Homo sapiens: one gene and its partners. The protein of the gene in region 1 purifies or fractionates together with the protein of each later gene. This does not show direct contact. Each region holds a gene or a part of one and is shown in the gene's direction. Other genes may lie near its edges.

Region 1 (7,020 bases):
AGTGGTTTTCTTTTCAAGCAATGCAATTGGTGTGGTATTTTTTTTTTTTTTTTTTTTATTATACTCTAAGTTTTAGGGTACATGTGCACATTGTGCAGGTTAGTTACATATGTATACATGTGCCATGCTGGTGCGCTGCACCCACTAATGTGTCATCTAGCATTAGGTATATCTCCCAATGCTATCCCTCCCCCCTCCCCCGACCCCACCACAGTCCCCAGAGTGTGATATTCCCCTTCCTGTGTCCATGTGATCTCATTGTTCAATTCCCACCTATGAGTGAGAATATGCGGTGTTTGGTTTTTTGTTCTTGCGATAGTTTACTGAGAATGATGGTTTCCAATTTCATCCATGTCCCTACAAAGGATATGAACTCATCATTTTTTATGGCTGCATAGTATTCCATGGTGTATATGTGCCACATTTTCTTAATCCAGTCTATCATTGTTGGACATTTGGGTTGGTTCCAAGTCTTTGCTATTGTGAATAGTGCCGCAATAAACATACGTGTGCATGTGTCTTTATAGCAGCATGATTTATAGTCCTTTGGGTATATACCCAGTAATGGGATGGCTGGGTCAAATGGTATTTCTAGTTCTAGATCCCTGAGGAATCGCCACACTGACTTCCACAATGGTTGAACTAGTTTACAGTCCCACCAACAGTGTAAAAGTGTTCCTATTTCTCCACATCCTCTCCAGCACCTGTTGTTTCCTGACTTTTTAATGATAGCCATTCTAACTGGTGTGAGATGATATCTCATAGTGGTTTTGATTTGCATTTCTCTGATGGCCAGTGATGATGAGCATTTCTTCATGTGTTTTTTGGCTGCATAAATGTCTTCTTTTGAGAAGTGTCTGTTCATATCCTTCACCCACTTTTTGATGGGGTTGTTTGTTTTTTTCTTGTAAATTTGTTTGAGTTCATTGTAGATTCTGGATATTAGCCCTTTGTCAGATGAGTAGGTTGCGAAAATTTTCTCCCATGTTGTAGGTTGCCTGTTCACTCTGATGGTAGTTTCTTTTGCTGTGCAGAAGCTCTTTAGTTTCATTAGATCCCATTTGTCAATTTTGGCTTTTGTTGCCATTGCTTTTGGTGTTTTGGACATGAAGTCCTTGCCCACGCCTGTGTCCTGAATGGTAATGCCTAGGTTTTCTTCTAGGGTTTTTATGGTTTTAGGTCTAACGTTTAAATCTTTAATCCATCTTGAATTGATTTTTGTATAAGGTGTAAGGAAGGGATCCAGTTTCAGCTTTCTACATATGGCTAGCCAGTTTTCCCAGCACCATTTATTAAATAGGGAATCCTTTCCCCATTGCTTGTTTTTCTCAGGTTTGTCAAAGATCAGATAGTTGTAGATATGCGGCATTATTTCTGAGGGCTCTGTTCTGTTCCATTGATCTATATCTCTGTTTTGGTACCAGTAGCATGCTGTTTTGGTTACTGTAGCCTTGTAGTATAGTTTGAAGTCAGGTAGTGTGATGCCTCCAGCTTTGTTCTTTTGGCTTAGGATTGACTTGGCGATGCGGGCTCTTTTTTGGTTCCATATGAACTTTAAGGTAGTTTTTTCCAATTCTGTGAAGAAAGTCATTGGTAGCTTGATGGGGATGGCATTGAATCTGTAAATTACCTTGGGCAGTATGGCCATTTTCACGATATTGATTCTTCCTACCCATGAGCATGGAATGTTCTTCCATTTGTTTGTGTCCTCTTTTATTTCCTTGAGCAGTGGTTTGTAGTTCTCCTTGAAGAGGTCCTTCACATCCCTTGTAAGTTGGATTCCTAGGTATTTTATTCTCTTTGAAGCAATTGTGAATGGGAGTTCACCCATGATTTGGCTCTCTGTTTGTCTGTTGTTGGTGTATAAGAATGCTTGTGATTTTTGTACATTGATTTTGTATCCTGAGACTTTGCTGAAGTTGCTTATCAGCTTAAGGAGATTTTGGGCTGAGACGATGGGGTTTTCTAGATAAACAATCATGTCGTCTGCAAACAGGGACAATTTGACTTCCTCTTTTCCTAATTGAATACCCTTTATTTCCTTCTCCTGCCTGATTGCCCTGGCCAGAACTTCCAACACTATGTTGAATAGGAGCGGTGAGAGAGGGCATCCCTGTCTTGTGCCAGTTTTCAAACTATCTCTCAGACCACAGTGCAATCAAACTAGAACTCAGGATTAAAAATCTCACTCAAAGCCGCTCAACTACATGGAAACTGAACAACCTGCTCCTGAATGACTACTGGGTACATAACGAAATGAAGGCAGAAATAAAGATGTTCTTTGAAACCAACGAGAACAAAGACACCACATACCAGAATCTCTGGGACGCATTCAAAGCAGTGTGTAGAGGGAAATTTATAGCACTAAATGCCTACAAGAGAAAGCAGGAAAGATCCAAAATTGACACCCTAACATCACAATTAAAAGAACTAGAAAAGCAAGAGCAAACACATTCAAAAGCTAGCAGAAGGCAAGAAATAACTAAAATCAGAGCAGAACTGAAGGAAATAGAGACACAAAAAACCCTTCAAAAAATCAATGAATCCAGGAGCTGGTTTTTTGAAAGGATCAACAAAATTGATAGACCGCTAGCAAGACTAATAAAAAAAGAGAGAAGAATCAAATAGACACAATAAAAAATGATAAAGGGGATATCACCACCGATCCCACAGAAATACAAACTACCATCAGAGAATACTACAAACACCTCTACGCAAATAAACTAGAAAATCTAGAAGAAATGGATAAATTCCTCGACACATACACTCTCCCAAGACTAAACCAGGAAGAAGTTGAATCTCTGAATAGACCAATAACAGGCTCTGAAATTGTGGCAATAATCAATAGTTTACCAACCAAAAAGAGTCCAGGACCAGATGGATTCACAGCCGAATTCTACCAGAGGTACAAGGAGGAACTGGTACCATTCCTTCTGAAACTATTCCAATCAATAGAAAAAGAGGGAATCCTCCCTAACTGATTTTATGAGGCCAGCATCATTCTGATACCAAAGCCGGGCAGAGACACAACCAAAAAAGAGAATTTTAGACCAATATCCTTGATGAACATTGATGCAAAAATCCTCAATAAAATACTGGCAAACCGAATCCAGCAGCACATCAAAAAGCTTACCCACCATGATCAAGTGGGCTTCATCCCTGGGATGCAAGGCTGGTTCAATATACGCAAATCAATAAATGTAATCCAGCATATAAACAGAGCCAAAGACAAAAACCACATGATTATCTCAATAGATGCAGAAAAAGCCTTTGACAAAATTCAACAACCCTTCATGCTAAAAACTCTCAATAAATTAGGTATTGATGGGATGTATTTCAAAATAATAAGAGCTATCTATGGTGTGGTATTTTTAATCTTGATTTCTAATGTTCGTTGCTGGCATATAGAAACATAGTCAGTGTTTGTATTTTTATCCAGTTCTGTGACCTTACTGAATTCACTTATTATTTCTAGAAGTGTGTGTGTGTGTAGATTCATTGGGATTTTCTGTGTAGACAACCATGGGGACAGTTTCTAACCTCTGTGCCTTTTATTATTATTTCTTCTTCTTCTTCTTCCTCTTCCTCCTCTTCCTCCCTCCTTCCTCCTTCTTTCTCCTTCCTCCTTCTTTCTCCTTCCTTCTCCCTCTTCTTCTTTTTTTTTTTTCTTGTTTATTGCACTGGCTAGAATTAGTGGTAAGAGCGTATGTTCTTGTCTTGTTCCTGGTCTTAGGGGAGATGCATTCAATCTTTCTTCATTAAGTATAATGTTAACTGTAGGGTTTTTGTAGATGTTCTTTATGAGGTTGAGGAAATTTTCCCTATTTCTGTTTTTCGGAGAACTTTTTTCATGACTGTGTTGAATTTTGTCAGATGCTTTTTTTGAGTCCGCTGTTACAATTCTGTGATTTTTCTTCATCCTGTTACTGTGGATTACACTGATTGATTTTCAAATATTGAACCAACCTTGCATCTTGGAATAAATCCTCCTTAGTCATGGCATATAAATCTATTTATATATTGCTGGATTCTATTTTCTAATATTTTTTTAAGGATTTTTACATCTATATTTGTAAACAATATTGATCCGAAGTTTTCTTTTTTGATACTGTCCTTTTCTAGTTTTGGTATCTCAGTAATACTGGCTTCATAAAATGAATTGGGACATGTTCTTTCCTATTTTGTGACGGAGATTATGTTGAATTTGTGTTCATTCTTAAACATTTGGTGGAATTTCCCAAGGTTGCTCCCAACCTCCAACAAACATTTGTTCTGCTGCTTGTTACCATAAATTAGATATGACTTTCCTCAAATTTCTTTATAACACAACATTCTACAGTGTGTGTGTGTGTATGTACACACGGACTGTTTTGTGTCTGGCACTCATTTCATTCAGCAAAATTTTTGATATTCATCTTTGTTCTATACATCAGTAGTTTACTCCTTTTTACTGCTGAGCGGTATTCTGTTGCGTGGATATGCTACAAATTGTTTATCCATTCATGTGTTGATGGACATTTGAGCTTTTTTCAGTCTTTGGCTGTTACAAAGTTGTAGTCAAGTCTTTGTGTGGACATAAGCTTTTTTCTGTTTTCCTTTTTTTTTTTGAGACAGAGTCTCGCTCTGTTGCCCAGGCTGGAATGCAGTACCGCGATCCCCGCTTATTGCAACCTCCGCCTCCTGGGTTCAAGCAGTTCTCCTGCCTCAGCCTCCCAAGTAGCTGGGACTACAAGCATGCACCACCACCCCCAACTAATTTTTGTATTTTTAGTAGAGATGGGTTTTTCACCATGTTGGCCAGGCAGGTCCCGAACTCCTGACCTCAGGTGATCCGCCCGCCTCGGACTCCCAAAGTGCTGGGATTACAGGTGTGAGTTACCACGCCTGATCTTCTTTTTTCTTTTTGAAGCAGAGTCTTGCTCTGTCACCCAGGCCGGAGTGCAGTGGCATCATCTCGGCTCACTGCAGCCTCTGCATCTCTGGTTCAGGCAGTTCTCCTGCTTCAGTTTTGAGTAGTTGGGATTATGGGTGCATGTCACCATGCCCAGCTGCCTTTTTGTTTGTTTTTTCATCATGTTGTGCTTTGTGAAGCACAGCAATGGAAGCACTTTTTAAAAATGATTTTTAGTTTCTAAATTTTTAGTTACAGTGTCAGTAATATGGGATTTGGACATAGAGCCTCCAGATACTTGATACATGTTTACGTGAATGTTTCTTTTCAGGGGAAATACATTTCAAATTCTAGACAACAGTTGGGTAGTCAACCTGTTTTTCACCTCTAGAATGTTTGTTCATATGTGGCCCACATTAGTTGCTACTGTGAGACAGAATCCTGCAGTGCCTTTTCTCTTCTGGTATTATGGATTCCAAGCTGGCCTATTTAAAATACTGTTGTCAAAGACAGTTGTAATCCTCTAAGTACTTGGTCATTTAGAACTCACAGTTACTTTTTTTCTTTTAGTAGCCCAGGAATAGCTTTTATTGTTTGCATTGCTGTGAAGTTTCCTGAATACACATGTACTAGTGCCCAATCATCAGTTGTAATTTAAAGCAATGGTTTCATATATACAGATTTCCACTCAAAAATTGGTTTTTCTTTGCCATCCCACAGTACCTTCTCCAGGCAAATTCCGTTCCCCTGCAGCACCATCTCCTTTGGCTCTTCGGCAACCAGTGAAAGCATTTAGTAACCATGGCTCTGGTTCTCCTGGTAGCCAAGAAATAACACAGCTCACACAAACCACCTCCTCACCTGGGCCTCCTATGGTTCAGAGCACAGTCTCAGCAAATCCTCCCAGCAATATCAACAGCGCTACTCTAACCAGACCTGCAGGGACAACTGCAATGAGAAGTGGCTTGCCCAGACCCAGTGCCCCTTCTGCTGGGGGCATACCAGTGCCTCGCAGCAAACTTGCACAGCCTGTTCGCAGGTAAGTGGCAGATGTTCTGTTTCAGCATTCTTGAGTGCCTGAAAGTGGATAGACTGGAATGAATTAGCTTCATCCGTATGTTTGATAGTAAACAGAAAGTCATGGTGGATTCCCACCAGAGTTTTAGTACCATTTGAATAAAACTTTACTACATTGTTTTTAAGAAATCCTCATTTGGGACTTTTACCAGTTTGGTTCAGATTAAATTTGTCCAGTTGCCTAACGTGATTAAGCATCTCAGAGGACCCCTAGAAAAAAAATTGTTAGAGCCTCTCAATTTGATTGTGATATTCATTCATTTCGAATATAATTATATTCAATAAAGATGATAAAGGTATATTAGAATATAGAGTGATATTTAAGATAAAACTTCTAGCTACCAAGTCTGAGTATAATCTATAAGCATGGTTTTCAAACCCTTATTCTATAATTCAGAATTATCTGTGAGATTTATATAAATGTAGGGTGTAAGTTTTACCTTCAGAGAGTCTAACTTAGTAGATCTGTTATGAGGCCCAGAATCTGTGGGTGTGCTAGGTATTTTGTTGTTGTTTTTTGTTTTGTTTTTGTTTTTGTTTTGTTTTTGTTTTGAGATGGGGTCTTGCTTTGTCTCCCAGGCTGGAGTGCGGTGGTGCAATCTTGGCTCACTGCAGCCTTGACCTCCCAGGCTCAAGCAATCCTGTCACCTCAGCACCCCCTGTAGCTGGGACTACAGGCGCACACCACCATGCCTGGCTAATTTTTGTAGAGATGGGGTTTTACCATGTTGCCCAGGCTTGTCTGGAGCTCCTGAGTTCAAGTGATCTGCTTGCCTCAGCCTCCCAGAATGCTGGGATTACAGTTGCTGGTTTTTTTGTTTGTTTGTTGTTTGTTTGCGTAATCTTCAGATGATTCTGAATCAGACAGGTTGGGAATGATGCATCTGTAACCTTTCAAGAATGGGATTACCACCATCAGTAAACTTTGGTGTCAAATATAATTAAACTGGAAATATTTATCACTGTGCTAAATAAGTAAATGCTTGCTTTGTTTAATCTTCATAATAATATTAAATGAGTAGGTATTCTTATTTCTATTTTTCAAAAGAGGA
Region 2 (7,841 bases), on another chromosome or scaffold:
ACTGTATATTAAATAGATATTTTTTGGGTGCTGAATCAATTTTATTTAAATTTGTGATTAAAGTGACATTGAATTTCTGATGCTATGCTGCCATAACACTTGAAAACCAATTTAGTTGTTAGTCATTCATTAAACATTAACATCACTATCATTTATTTATTGCTAAATGATGCATAGTATTTTAGTCTACTTGTATTGTTTATAAGAAACCCAAGCAAAAATATATAGCAATTGTTACCTTGTTAAGTTTGTAGTTCTCTACATTTCTCTGGATGGAGACTGTGAACATCTGATTGTTCAGCAACCTTCAGTATCTATTATTTTAATAAGAAAGAAACTTCCCCTAAACTTTAGAAAACAGTTGCTCCACTTTAGGAATCAAATTATGTCAATAAATGTTATAAACACAGCCTTCATTTCAACTTATATAAAATATGTTTTAAAATGCCTGACAATGTAGATAATTCAAGAAATGTTGACTGAAATTTTGTCTACACTTAGAACATTTTTTGAAATTCAGTTTACAGAAATTGGAGAAAATGCTTTTTAAACAAGTGTTTCCTTTCTTCAAGAAGACATTCTCCTTTTAATTGAAATTTTCTCCATTCAGTGATAAAATGATCAGCCATGTGAAGATTCGAAACTTCGAGTTCTTTTGAAATTCAGAGTCTGTAACTTAAAACATTACCCTTATGAATTTAGATGAGAATTCACTTGTTCTGTCAGTAATCCATAAGACAGAAATCTGTTTTTTTAAAAATATCTTTTTCTCCTCTCAGCTCATACATAACACAAGGCAGAAATCTGGATATGAGATTTGCCTCTTTAATGTCACTACATGTTATGTTTCCTGAATTGTAGTATGTGACTTTCAAAATGGTGGTTTTCCACACTCTACCTTTAGTGCAAGCTATTTGTTTGTTTTCTAATTTATAGTTTTAAAAACTTCGCTTATTGAGTTTTTGTTATGTGGTTTATATTTTTCTTTCTCTTTCAGCTATTTTATTTAATATTGTGTCAGATATTTTACAAGGTATGACCTAATTAAAAACTCAGTAGAGAAAGATCAGAATGGCCTTGAGAATAGAGCCACAAAAATAACTATGAAAATGCCAGTAACGTTTATTTAAAACAAAATATTTTAATTTTTAAATTTTCCCTTAAAACACACTTTTGGAATATGCTACAATATTACATGTTTTTTGTCTTTTTATTTTTCTGAGACGGAGTCGTTTTCTGCCACCCAGGCTGGAGTACAGTGGCATGATCTTGGCTCACTGCAACGTCTGCCTCCTGGGTTCAAGCAATTCTCCTGCCTCAGCCTCCTGAGTAGCTGGGATTATAGGCACATGCCACCGCGCCCAGCTAATTTTTGTATTTTTAGTAGAGATGGGGTTTCATCATGTTGGCCAGGTTGGTCTCGAACTCCTGACCTTGTGATGCTCCCACCTCGGCCTCCCAAAGTGCTGGGATTAAAGCTGTGAGCCACTGTGCCAAGGCTTTTTTATTTTTTTTTTTTGTCATTTTCTTTCAAAACTTGAGTGGTCTCTGAGCTCCTGTCATTAAACCTATCTATATCTGTCTATCAGCACAACTCACCTTGAATATAGTCTTATACTTTCAAGTATCTTTGTCTTTGCACGTTTTTCAAGTTTCATGTGCCATTTAAACTTGGACCCAGGTATCTGATTATTTGATGTGAATAGAGGGATGCTACAGATGTCATTTGTCTCCCGCCCTAAGTCCTCCAGTCTCCTTAGAGCTAGTACTTACTAAGCATTTACTATGTCATCAATAATCATAAAACGTATTTTTTTTTTTGAGTCAGAGTCTCGCTCTGTTGCCCAGGCTGGAGTGCAGTGGTGCCATCTTGGCTCACTCCAAGCTCCCCCTCCCGTGTTCACGCCATTCTCCTGCCTCAGCCTCCCGAGTAGCTGGGACTACAGGCGCCTGCCACCATGCCCGCCTAATTTTTTTGTATTTTTAGTAGAGATGGGGTTTCACCGTGTTAGTCAGGATGGTCTCGATCTCCTGACCTCATGATCCTCCCGCCTCAGCCTCCCAAAATGCTGGGATTACAGGCGTGAGCCACCGCGCCTGGCCTAAAATGTGTTCTTTATTATTGACGGCTGTATTGATGGGATTGGTAATTTAGTCCTTCATATTAATCTCTATTCTCTCTCAGAGTACAAGCTCTCATCATATGCAAATTCTCAGAAGGGCTGTGAACACCTTAGTAATAAATTTATCTTTTGAGGTCATTAGCAAACATGAACTCACAGGGATCCAGAGATGGTAAAATTCAAAACAGCCTGTCAAGTTCAAAACAGAGAGGTGAAAGCAGAAGAGACACTTTCCTATTTTGCCTAATAGGTCTCCTTATATGCATCTGTAGTTAACATTCCTCAATTCAAGTTAGAATCATGAAACAATAATGAAGCTCCTCCTATGTCTCTTTTCAAGTTGTAATTACTATATAGGAAAAACTAAGTTGTCACCCAATATCTTAGACACTTTGAGAGCAAAGGGGGTGCTGTAAATAAGTATACAAGATCACAGACCTAAATTGAGCCTGTTCCAGACAAATTGGGGCCTATGGTCAACCTATCCTTAGACCTGCTAACGCATTAGCATTAGCAGCACCTAAGTCCTCATTGAATGTTCTGGTTCAAGGCTCCACCTCAGAAATTCTGAAATGGGTAGTAAGAGCAAATTTTCATTTTAAAGCACACCTGAGATGATTCTCATACAACCGAAATTTTAGATCCATAGCCCTATTTGATACTTGACAGTGCAAGTTTCTGTAATTTAAAAAGATGTGGTGGCCTGACACCTGCAATCCCAACATTTTGGGAGGCCAAGGTGGGAGGGTCCCTTCCTTGAGCCCAGCAGTTTGAGACCAATGTAGTGAGACTCATCTCTGCCAAAAAAAAAAAATTAGCCGGGCATGGTGGCACACATCTCTAGTCCCAATTACTCAGGAGGCTGAGGCGAGAGAATCGCTTGAGCCTGGGACATTGAGGCTGCAGTGAACTGTGATGGCACAACTGCATTTCAGCCCGGGTGACAGCAAGATTCTGTCTCAAAAAAAAAAAAAAAAAGAGTAGTTTAACTACTCCCTACTTTTTATTCAATATTGGACATCTACATTGGGATATTTATGTTATCACTTGGTATAAAATGTACATTAGTAGAAATTGAGTTTAGTTTTTATTATTTTGTGCGTGGAGATGATTGATCAATGGCAAACTTATTTTACGCTCCAGATAGCTAAAACAAACGTTGATATTTTGATACATAACTCATTACATTTTAATTCAGGGTTTATAAAAAAGTAATCTCTAAAATCAGAATTTGAATGAATTTTGATGCAAGAGGCATTCCAGAGGAGTAGAGAAGTATAGAAACAGAATTTAGTAGGACACATAAACTGATGGATTAAGTGACACCCATTTCTGTCAGTTTTCTTATTCATAAATATTGTTGCTCTGTCATTCAGATTTTAATAAAAAAAGTTTAAAGTAATTGACACATTTAAAAATATTCTTTAGAAAAGTCAAAACATCATTAAATAAAATAAATTAACCCTTGCATAAGACCAATATGTCTGTTGTTAAGTTTTCCTTTCTTGGAAAGACAGAAAACTCAAGTTTTTTTCAGCAGCACAGATATATTACATTTTCATTCCTGAATATTTGATTTCAAGAACTTTGAGAGAGAAAAAAATATTTTTACTGCAAGTGGTGATGAAAAACTTCACTGACATTGATAAAATTACTAGATATATTTCAGAACTGTGTCTTTTGGGCATTTGAAAAGCGTAAATATAACAGGGTTGAAAGCATTTGCCTCTGAAAGCAGAAATAATAAATTTCTTAATTACTTTATTCAGAATTATAATTAAGATTCTTTTTGCCCGTGTAAGATATTATAAAATGAAACTTCTTGTATAAAGGATTTTTCTGTAATAGTACTTTTCTGTTTTCTTAAATACAGAAACCACCACTCTCAGCCTGTGCAGTAGCAATAATTAAGGCATTCTATAGGTAATAATTTTGCCTGATGAGCCAAATTTGGTATTGAGCCTCATGAAAACAAATGTGGCCAAATTGAGGCCTGAGAATAGTTTCCATTTATGAAGCACTCATTCTCCTTAAGGTACTATTGCAAGCACTTACTATATTATAATTCACTCAACCACCGTATTACTATTAGGCCAAAGTTATAAAATTGGAACATGAGGGAGGGAGAGGTTAAACGATTTTCCCAAGTCATGTGGCTAGTGAGTAGGATAATAGGAATCTAAATGGAGAAATGTCTGATGTTGAAGCTAATGATCTCTAAATTCTAGTGATGACTAGATCTTCGGAGTTATAAACACCTCACAGATAGTTGATGCTTGACATTAGTGTCTAAATAAACCTTATTAAATCTCAAAATAATGAGAAAGAGAAGTAAGTTAAGTGTCAGAACTTAAATGGAACTAAAGTTGTCATTTAATAAAATATTAGTATACTCAGTAGTATGCAAATATTAAGGGCATTTTGAAATTCGGCTATTGATAATCATGTGGTTAGGGAAGAAATCACTACTCTGAGAGTCTACATTTAAGAAAACATTGCACGTGGGATCAACATTTATTGTTATTAACTATAAAGAGACGTAATGTGAGGCTTTGAAAGTCCATAGACATAAAAATACGTAAAAAAAGAATTAACATATGAATGAAAGAAAAGTTGTGAACTCATGGAATCGTACTTACACCTAAAGCCACCGGATGTCGCTGTCGTCCACAAAATAGCTTTTTAGAACAAAGGCATCAGCCAGTTTCTCAAGGACTAGGAAGTAGCGTCATTCTGAGATCTCAGCCATTTCGATAAAAAATAGATATAAGAAATAGGACAGAAAATGTCAGATCGTATGTGCGTTCTAGACCGCTGATTCGTCGATTTGTAAAACAAGAGAAGGATAAGATGGTTTCCAGATGTAGCTGCCTGGGGGTCCAGTGTCTGCTGCTCTCGCTTCTTCTCCTCGCAGCCTGGGAGGTGGGGAGCGGCCAGCTCCACTACTCAGTCTACGAGGAGGCCAGACACGGCACCTTCGTGGGCCGCATCGCGCAGGACCTGGGGCTGGAGCTGGCGGAGCTGGTGCAGCGCCTGTTCCGGGTGGCGTCCAAAAGACACGGGGACCTTCTGGAGGTAAATCTGCAGAATGGCATTTTGTTTGTGAATTCTCGGATTGACCGCGAGGAGCTGTGCGGGCGGAGCGTGGAGTGCAGCATCCACCTGGAGGTGATCGTGGACAGGCCGCTGCAGGTTTTCCATGTGGACGTGGAAGTGAAGGACATTAACGACAACCCGCCCAGGTTCTCCGTAACAGAACAAAAGCTCTCAATACCTGAATCCAGACTGCTTGACTCTCGATTTCCACTAGAAGGCGCATCTGATGCGGATGTTGGAGAGAACGCATTGCTTACTTACAAACTCAGTCCAAATGAGTATTTTGTTCTTGATATTATAAACAAAAAAGACAAAGACAAATTCCCAGTGCTTGTTCTGCGGAAGCTGCTGGATCGTGAAGAAAATCCTCAGCTAAAGTTGTTGTTGACAGCAACTGATGGAGGCAAACCTGAATTTACCGGATCTGTTTCTCTGCTGATCCTGGTGTTAGATGCCAATGATAACGCCCCTATCTTTGACAGACCGGTTTATGAAGTTAAGATGTATGAAAATCAAGTGAACCAAACATTAGTAATACGGCTCAACGCTTCTGATTCGGATGAAGGAATAAACAAGGAAATGATGTATTCATTTAGCTCTTTGGTCCCACCCACGATAAGAAGGAAATTTTGGATAAACGAAAGGACGGGAGAAATAAAAGTAAATGATGCTATTGACTTTGAGGACAGTAACACTTATGAAATTCATGTAGATGTTACAGATAAGGGAAACCCACCTATGGTTGGTCACTGCACGGTCCTAGTGGAACTACTGGATGAAAATGATAATTCACCTGAGGTGATTGTCACTTCTCTGTCTCTCCCAGTGAAAGAAGATGCTCAAGTGGGCACCGTCATTGCCCTAATCAGCGTTTCTGACCATGATTCAGGAGCCAACGGACAGGTCACCTGCTCTCTGACGCCTCACGTTCCGTTCAAGCTGGTGTCCACCTACAAGAATTACTACTCATTGGTGCTGGACAGCGCTCTGGACCGCGAGAGGGTGTCGGCCTATGAGCTGGTGGTGACCGCGCGGGACGGGGGCTCGCCTCCGCTGTGGGCCACGGCCAGCGTGTCTGTGGAGGTGGCCGACGTGAACGACAACGCGCCTGCGTTCGCGCAGTCCGAGTACACGGTGTTCGTGAAGGAGAACAACCCGCCAGGCTGCCACATCTTCACGGTGTCTGCGTGGGACGCGGACGCGCAGGAGAACGCCCTGGTGTCCTACTCTCTGGTGGAGCGGCGGTTGGGCGAGCGCTCGCTGTCGAGCTACGTGTCGGTGCACGCGGAGAGCGGCAAGGTGTACGCGCTGCAGCCGCTGGACCACGAGGAGCTGGAGCTGCTACAGTTCCAGGTGAGCGCGCGCGATGGGGGCGTGCCGCCTCTGGGCAGCAACTTGACGCTGCAGGTGTTCGTGCTGGACGAGAACGACAACGCTCCCGCGCTGCTGGCGTCTCCCGCTGGCAGCGCGGGCGGTGCAGTCAGTGAGCTGGTGCTGCGGTCGGTGGTTGCGGGTCACGTGGTGGCTAAGGTGCGCGCAGTGGACGCTGACTCTGGATACAACGCGTGGCTGTCGTATGAATTGCAGTCGGCGGCGGTTGGTGCACGCATCCCGTTTCGCGTGGGGCTGTACACGGGCGAGATCAGTACGACGCGCGCTCTGGATGAGACTGACTCGCCACGCCAGCGCCTACTGGTGCTGGTGAAGGACCATGGCGAGCCGTCGCTGACGGCCACGGCCACTGTGCTTGTGTCGCTTGTGGAGGGCAGCCAGGCACCCAAGGCCTCGTCGCGGGCTTCAGTGGGCGTGGCGCCCGAGGTGGCCCTGGTGGATGTCAACGTGTACCTGATCATCGCCATCTGCGCGGTGTCCAGCTTGCTGGTGCTCACGCTGCTGCTGTACACTGCACTGAGGTGCTCGGCGGCGCCCACCGAGGGCGCATGTGGGCCGGTGAAGCCCACGCTGGTGTGCTCTAGCGCGGTGGGGAGCTGGTCTTACTCGCAGCAGAGGCGGCAGAGGGTGTGTTCTGGGGAGGGCCTGCCCAAGGCGGACCTCATGGCCTTCAGCCCCAGCCTTCCACCATGCCCAATGGTAGATGTGGACGGGGAAGATCAGTCTATTGGAGGGGACCACTCTAGGAAGGTGGGTTATTACGTTTTCATTTTCCTTTTGTGCTTTATGAATAATATTTTCTCTTACCGCATTTTCTCAAATATGTATCAGAATATTTCATTTTTGTCTACATTCCATTTATGCTTGAATATTTCTAGTGATACCTTTGTAATATAATTTATTCCAGGAGTTTTAAAATTTTTTTATCCTACCCAGTGTGTCAGCCTTTGATTGGTACTTAAATTTTTTTAAATAACAATTTATTCTGAATACACTAATATTTTCCAATACAAATATGTGATATAGGTTGCAGTTCTGACGATTTACTTTCATAATCACTTTTCGTTACAAATATTTGTGAGATTAGTACTTCATGTTATTTCATTTCCAATCTAAATTTTGATTTGATTGTATTTGCATTACCAAAAAATTCCACTGATCTATATCTCTTCAGTGAAAATGTGTTTTCCTCCATGTGTAGAATATGTGTAGCGTACCACAGCTTATACT
Region 3 (7,457 bases), about 47 Mb from region 1:
AGTAGAGCCCTTTGCCAGCCAGGAGGCCCAGCCACCCCCTTCCCTGCCCTGTGGCTTTGGGGGGAGACACAGAGTCACCTCAAGGCCCCAGCCCACTCAGCGCACGGTGCACACATCCAGGATGCAGAAGCGTGCGCGGCAGGTGGGGCAGGGCACGCGGCTGGCCAGCCAGGTGTCAGGGCGCAGGGGGTCCTGGCGGCTGGCGAACCACTTGCCCATGCAGGTGAGGCACCACATGGGGCGGCAGTAACACTGCTGGCACTCGCCTGTGGCTGCCTCCTGGCAGGTCTTCACCAGCTTCACGCTGGCACGTGTCTGCATGCAGCCTATGCAGGCCTCCAGCTCCTGCGGGCAGGTGGAGCGTCACCAGGAGCCCAGGCAGACACCCGTGGGCACCCACCCATCCACCCGGCCCTGGCCCAGGCCCCCCACCTGGCTGCTGGGCACTGAGTAGGCCGGGTTGACCTCTACCAGGGAGGCAAATGTCTCCAGGAACAGGTCGCCCAGGCTCTGGTGGATGACCACATGGGCTGCCCTGCGGATGGGTGCCCGGAGCTTCTCGCAGAGCTCCCCGTACTCAGTGGAGTTCAGCCTGCAGGGAGGAGAGCTGCTGGGCCCCTCTGCAGGGCAAAGGGAGCGGAAGATGGAGGCTACACCCCAAGGAGTGACAGGGCAGCTGTCGCACCAGGACCAACCAGGAGAGATGGCCCTAAGGCCAGAGCCCACGGACCCAGTGCCAGACAGCCCAGCCTGGGCACGGGACGGACCTAGGAGCAAGGCAGCTGTCCAGCCTGAGGGCTGCACTGTCCTGAGTGCTCCCCAAGAATCTGGGGGAGGTGGCTCCAGGGAGTGGAAGGGGAGGCCAAGAGTGCAGGGGGACCCGAGGGAGGGCTATGCGGGAGGGCTCAGTGACTGGTGTCTTGTGGACACCTTGCCTGGTGTCACACAAGCCCAGGAGTGTTGGAGTCCACACCAGCTACACCCAGCACCTCCCAGGGGTCGTGGCACCAGAGCCTGGCTCTGGCCTGCCATGTGCCCTCCGCAGCCCCACAGGCACCACACTCTTACCAGATGTCAAAGGCCTGCACAGCAGGGTTGGTGCTGGCCACACGGATGGTGAGGAGCTGCACGGGCAAGTTCGAGTCTGGCGAGAGCTCATGCTGCCGAGACTCCGTCACAGTCAGGTGCACGTCCTGCTGCTGGGCCACGTGCACTCGGTAGGTGGTTACCTTCATCACCCACGTGTCTGTCACAATCACACGGGCACCTGGTGCACCGGTGGCAAACTTGTCAATCCGCCGGAACTCAGTGTTGACAGAGGAGGCAACAGCCTGCCAGCCAGACTGTGGGAGGGCGTAGAGGGCCAGGGTGCGCGCCAGTGGGTGGCAGGCCCACCGGTCACGGGACCAGTAGTAGATCAGGATGCAGGCGATGGAGGGGAGGGTCACGGCCAGCAGCAGGAAGAGCCGCCAGGCCTCAGGGGCCTGGCTGAGGGCGTGGAGCCGCTTTTCTGAAGCCGCAAGGCACATGCCCACATAGTAGCCTGCAAAGGACAGGGTGAGCCTCAGGGGAAAGTGAGTGGCAGGCCGCTGTCCACCCCCCGACAGCCCTGGACCTGGCCCTCTGCCCGGGTTCCAGGGTCAGCTCCCAGGGTAATTGGGCTTTACCCACTCTGCACTTCCCCAGCCGGCCACTCTCTCCCTGCCTGTGGCAAAGGCAGGATATATTAGCGGAAAAGGTTTTTAATTTGCTGCTTTAGTTTCACACAATACGTAAGTGTTGAAAAAACTACAAAAGCCTAGAAAGGGAAAAATAAACACAATCAGGTGTCACCTCAGGCAGAGCTGACCCCTGGCCTGCCAGGGCAGCTGCCTGGACAGGATCTCAGTCTCTCAATCTCACCCGCTCTGAGGAGGCTGATCAAATGTGGTGCATCCCAGAGCTGAAAAGTTATGTGCGAGAAAGGAAGCAAGTCTCAAAGAATGATGGGACATGTCCAGAGGACACGGAGCCAGCTTCAGGGCCCTGCTGGCCAGATCGAGGACAATTTGAAGGTCCAAATAAGCCATGGAGATGGTGAGGAGTTGCACCAGCAGGTTCCAGTTGGCAAAAAGTAATAGTCCACATTTGGAGTTGGCCCAGTCACTGCATTTCAAGGTAACATGACATATAACAATAGGTAACTAGGGGCCGGGTGCAGTGGCTCACACCTGTAATCCCAGCACTTTGGGAAGCCGAGGCGGACGGATCACGAGGTCAGATCGAGACCATCCTGGCTAACACGGTGAAACCCCATCTCCACTAAAAAATACAAAAAATTAGCCGGGCGTGGTGGCGGGCGCCTGTAGTCCCAGCTACTCAGGAGGCCGAAGTTGCAGTGAGCCGAGATCATGCCACTGCACTCCAGCCTGGGTGACAGAGCGAGGCTCCGTCTCAAAAAGTAAAAATAAAAATAAAACAGGTAACTAATACCTAATAAAGCTTGAAAACTTTCAAACTAAGTTAAAAATAAAAAGAGCTTGACATCCGACTGTGAGGCCAGCTGTGCTGTCTGCTCCAGGTGTGGCTGCCACAATTCACTTGTGGTCCCTCATAGGCCTCTGGGGAGGGTGCAGCTGGAAGGGCTACAGAAACCCACCCAGTAGCCCTAGAAAGTGGCCTGGTCAGGGCCCCAGCCCCACTCAGCCCCATCCATCTCTCAAGTGGGCCCCCAGCCCACCCTCTCCATGAGGCAGGCCTGGGCGCCTCCACCCGACACCTGCCTCCAGTTCTTCTGGGCCCAGGCAGCTGCATCCTCAAACCAGGATGTGGAGGGTCACCCCTCTTGTATCCCCAGAGTGGCAAACCTGGCCAGCCACTGGCCATCTGTCCTCCCAGGGCTGCGTCTGCCCCCGTGTCCTCCAGAGGTACCCCCTTGAAATCCCCCTCCAGCCACTGCACACCCCACCTCCCACCTGTCCGTCATCCAATCAGCTGAGAGAGGGACCTTCCAGAGCCCCAGCTAGCACCTGGGGCCCAGCCCAGCACCCCCCTGGACAACTCTGAGCGTCCCACCTGCACTGCACAGAGGCCCTCCCCAGCCTCTGCCCCTGTGGCGCCCCCAAACTGGAACTGCCTCCAAATCCGCCTGTTCTCTCCACACCCACCTTCCAAGGCCTAGTGCAGTGCCACCCTCCACACAGCCCCTCCGACCCCTTCCGTTGGACTCAATCAACAGTTGCCTTCTCCTGGCCACTGCCCCCAACCACGACAAGCAAGGGCTGCTTGGCCTTGCAACCCCCAGGCACGTGACGGTTCAGGACTTGGTGGGCCGGAGCATCCCTTGCCCAAGGTTCTGAACTTGGGTTCCCGTCACCTGCAAGTCAGTGCCGGCGGCGCCCCTAAGCGCGCTCAGCCCACGCCGCGGTCCCTCTGGATGAGGACCGGCGCCTCTCCCCAGCTGCGCCCAGGCGCTTTCGGGGCCTCGGGGAGCTGGCGGAGGCCTCCTCCTGACCTCCCAGCAAGCCCTGCGCAGGAGAGGATGCGGCCGGCCGGCCCGAGCAGCCTCACCGAGCGGCAGCAGCGAGTGGCACAACAGCGTGGCGGCCGTGCGGCGCAAGTGGAAGGGCACGAAGGCGGCGTCCTCGCTGCCCAGCCAGCCCGACAGCAGGTTCTGCACCGTGAGCCCCGCCGCGTGGAACTCGTTGGGCGTGAACACGAAGCACACGGCGAACACCAGATAGGCGAGAGTGAAGGTCACCTCGGGGCTGTCCATCGCGCAGCCGCCGGGAAGCTGTCGAGCTAGGCCCCCGCCCCGGCGCGCGGACGAGGCCGCAGCGCCCAGTCCCGGACCTGTCGGTTGCGGCGGCCGCCGCCCGGCCGCCCGCGGGGCACTCTAGGACATGGAGTCCCGCCGCCCGGCCGCCCGCGGGGCACTCTAGGACATGGAGTCCCGCCGCCCGGCCGCCCGCGGGGCACTCTAGGACATGGAGTCCCGCCGCCCGGCCGCCCGCGGGGCACTCTAGGGCATGGAGTCCCGCCGCTCGGCCGCTCGCGGGGCGCTCTGGGAGATGCAGTCCCCGTGCGGGTGCGGCCTCTCTTCTCGGCCGGCCCTGGAGGCGGCACCGCACCTGTGCATTGAGCACAGGTGGGGAAACTTAGGCCTGAGCGAGGCCCTGGCCATGAAGCCCCGCCCAGTAGCGTCAGTTGCGGAACTCGAAATTCATGGGGCGACTGCGAGCCCGGGGTCTCAGCTTCAGACACCCTGGCGTGCCCTCCACTCCGGAAACGGAACCGTCGGCGCCCGAGCGGGGGGTGGGGGGGGAGGGAGGGCGGAGCCGGCGAGGCACAGCTTCCCATTGGACGCCCGCCCTCCTGCGGTCCTGCCCCCGGCCGCGCGCTGATTGGCCGCGCGAAGGCAACCGTCGGCGTTTGAAACTCCGGCGCGCCGGCGGCCATCAAGGGCTAGAAGCGCGACGGCGGTAGCAGCTAGGCTTGGCCCCCGGCGTGGAGCAGACGCGGACCCCTCCTTCCTGGCGGCGGCGGCGCGGGCTCAGAGCCCGGCAACGGGCGGGCGGGCAGGTAGGAGAGCGGCTACACGGCGCGGGGAGGCTGGGGTCCTGGGGGCGCGAGGCCGTCCCGCCCCGCCCCGCCCTCGGCCCTCGCCCTCCCGCCCCGGCCGCCGCTTTCCCCGGGAAGCGTCCCCCACGGCTCCTCCTGGGGCCGCCGCCAGAACCTGTACCGCGCCCTGTCATGGGACCCGGCCCTAGACCGACCGCCGGGCTGGGCCCCCTGGATGGTGGCCAGGGGCGGCTAGAGCTGGGCCAAGACCGACGGCGGAGCGGGCGCCCCGAGGTGCTTTGCTCTCCTCGACCCTCTCCTGTCTCTCGGTCGCCCACCTTGGCTCTTTGTTGGCTCCCAGCACGCGGACCCTCCTGTTGTTCTTTGGTCCCTTCCGGCCTCCGTCCTGGGGCCAACTCCATCTAGGCCGCCTGCGGCGGACACCTGGGCCCCTACCGCTTCCCCGCACCTGCTGCGCCGCTCCACCTTCCCCCCGCACCGCATCCCTCTTGTGCACCAGAGTAGCACCAAAGCACCAGCCTGGGGCCGGTCCCTTCTCTGCCCAGAGCCCCTCCCGGGCCTCCATAGTCAGTAAAGGCCCCTCCTGACTAAGGCTGGGTCTGCTGCTCTCCCGAGCTCCTCCAGGCCGCCAGAAGGCTTCCTCCGAGTCACTTTCTCCCTGAGTTCGAGGCTTGCGGGTCCCCCAGCGATCCAGCACCCCTTCCCCTGCCCTGTACCCAGTTATTCAGGGCGAAAACCTAAGCGTCGTCCGTAAGTCCCATATGTGCCAGTGGCCAGGCCCGGGTCTGGTCTGGCATCTACTCCTTGGGCTCCAGAAGCCTGTGGTTTCCCTGCTTCCCTTCTGCTCTTAACCTCCCCACCCACACACAGCACCACAGTGGGCTTCTCAAGCTGCAGCACCGACCTGCCGGGGCTGCCCCCTCTCTCTTCTCCAGGACCCTCCCCAACTTTGCTCTTCTTCAAATCAAAGCCTCCCCAGGTCCCCCTCCACCACCAGGTGCCTGTGGGGTTCCTGCCCTGGTCGACACTCGGTTCTCTCTGGCAGCCTTTTTCCCTACGTCATTCCCTAGACTGGGAACGCTGTAGACAGAAAGGGTGGCAAGTGTGTGGGTGACCGGCGTGAGGACCTGGGCAGCCCTGGAACCTGGGACTGACTGGAGGCTCTGATGTGGAAGTTCCTTGGCACCTGTTGCTCAGCTCTGGGCTTCCCTTGTTTGCGCATCGTCTCCCAGCTCCTCCTCTGGGCCTTCACCCTCTCAGCCTGGTCTTGTCCCGCTGCCTAGCCCGGTGGGAGAGAGCAGACCAGAGCCGCTGTCCTGCTTTTCTGCCCTCTACTGCCCGGTCCTGCCTCACGTCACACGCAGAGGCCTGTGGGGAGACCAGGGCTTCCTCTGGCTCATCCGGGTTTCTTATTGGCCCGGGCTTTTCCGTCTCTTGACTTCTGCTTGATATAGTAATACAGCAGTAGAGATTATGCAGGCTTGGGTTTTCTTTCTCACCATCTCAGCCTGAAGGCCCTTTAGCTCTTGGTCCCAGGAAGCAGCAGTGCTGCCCATGGCTCCCCCTGCCAGGCTGGAGAGTGAGTCTCTGAAGCAAGATGGGGACTCAGTCTGAGGCTTTCTCTGCCAAGAGACACGTGTGGGAGGTGTGAGTTCCAGAGCAATGAGCACACCTGTGTGGGAAGTGGTCGTGCCCCTTGCAGCAGCTGTCACGTCTGTGTCTGGACAATGTGGTAGTGTTGCCCTCACACTGACACAAACATGTTCTGCTTTTCCAGAATGAGTCTGCAGGTCTTAAACGACAAAAATGTCAGCAATGAAAAAAATACAGAAAATTGCGACTTCCTGTTTTCGCCACCAGAAGTTACCGGAAGATCGTCTGTTCTTCGTGTGTCACAGAAAGAAAATGTGCCACCCAAGAACCTGGCCAAAGCTATGAAGGTAAGTGTGACCTGTACAGTGTGTGGCTGGCCAGGTTGCCCTAGGGCCTGCTTTCTTGGTGACCTCTGAGCTGCAGGACACTGCTGGTGTGGCTGTAACAGCTTGAACTAATGAATAGGTGCTCTCCTCCTCACTCCGCAACAGGTGACTTTTCAGACACCTCTGCGGGATCCACAGACGCACAGGATTCTAAGTCCTAGCATGGCCAGCAAACTTGAGGCTCCTTTCACTCAGGATGACACCCTTGGACTGGAAAACTCACACCCGGTCTGGACACAGAAAGAGAAGTAAGTGTTGGTGCTGCTGGACATGCTGGAGCTTCACCCTCTCTGTCCGATGGTTCTTGCAGGAAAGTGCTGTCTTGTTCTATCAGGCCTTGGCTGGATTTTTTGTTTGTTTGTTTGAGATGGAGTCTCGCTCTGTTGCCCACGCTGGAGTGCAGTGGCGCGATGTCCGCTCACTGCAAGCTCCGCCCCCCAGGTTCATGCCATTCTCCTGCCTCAGCCTTCCAAGTAGCTGGGACTACAGGCGCCTGCCACCACGCCCGGCTAATTTTTTTGTATTTTTAGTAAAGAAGGGGTTTCACCGTGTTAGCCAGGATGGTCTTGATCTCCTCCTGACCTCATGATGCGCCCGCCTTGGCCTCACAAAGTGCTGGGATTACAGGTGTGAGCCACCACGCCCGGCCGGCCTTGGCTGGATTTCTCCTGAAATCTGCACTGAGTGTATGCAGCATATGGCCAGTTCACTAACAGAAAAGTCGATCATCAGATACTTGGATAACTTCATACTTCACTTTTTTTTTTTTTTTTTTTTTTTTTTCTGGAGACAGAGTCTGGCTCTGTCACCCAGGCTGGAGTGCAGTGGCTCGATTTCGGCTCACTGCAAACTCCACCTCCCAGGTTCATGCCATTCTCCTGCCTCAGCCTCCCGAGTAGCTGGGGCTACAGGCGCCCG

What was found. Proteins that work in one complex are often made in the same cells at the same time.
Region 2: the proteins of SLAIN2 (region 1) and PCDHA10 purify together in Homo sapiens (affinity purification with mass spectrometry; 2 studies listed by BioGRID and IntAct, with this or other methods). This does not show direct contact.
Region 3: the proteins of SLAIN2 (region 1) and TACC3 purify together in Homo sapiens (co-immunoprecipitation; 4 studies listed by BioGRID and IntAct, with this or other methods). This does not show direct contact.

What each region holds. Positions count from the first base shown.
Region 1 is NC_000004.12:48,414,514-48,421,533, forward strand, and holds part of SLAIN2 (SLAIN motif-containing protein 2), read left to right. Parts: intron 1-5,611; coding exon 5,612-5,930; intron 5,931-7,020.
Region 2 is NC_000005.10:140,851,076-140,858,916, forward strand, and holds the start of PCDHA10 (protocadherin alpha-10 isoform 1 precursor), read left to right. Parts: upstream 1-4,821; 5' UTR 4,822-4,973; coding exon 4,974-7,361; coding exon of another isoform or gene 7,362-7,508; exon of another isoform or gene 7,509-7,841.
Region 3 is NC_000004.12:1,717,084-1,724,540, forward strand, and holds the start of TACC3 (transforming acidic coiled-coil-containing protein 3), read left to right. Parts: upstream 1-4,437; 5' UTR 4,438-4,560; exon of another isoform or gene 4,561-4,833; intron 4,834-6,337; 5' UTR 6,338-6,338; coding exon 6,339-6,500; intron 6,501-6,618; exon of another isoform or gene 6,619-6,644; coding exon 6,645-6,787; intron 6,788-7,457. Other genes in the region: TMEM129 (E3 ubiquitin-protein ligase TM129), read right to left, coding at 97-345, 433-592, 1,069-1,543, 3,550-3,754. UniProt on the Homo sapiens protein: Plays a role in the microtubule-dependent coupling of the nucleus and the centrosome. Involved in the processes that regulate centrosome-mediated interkinetic nuclear migration (INM) of neural progenitors.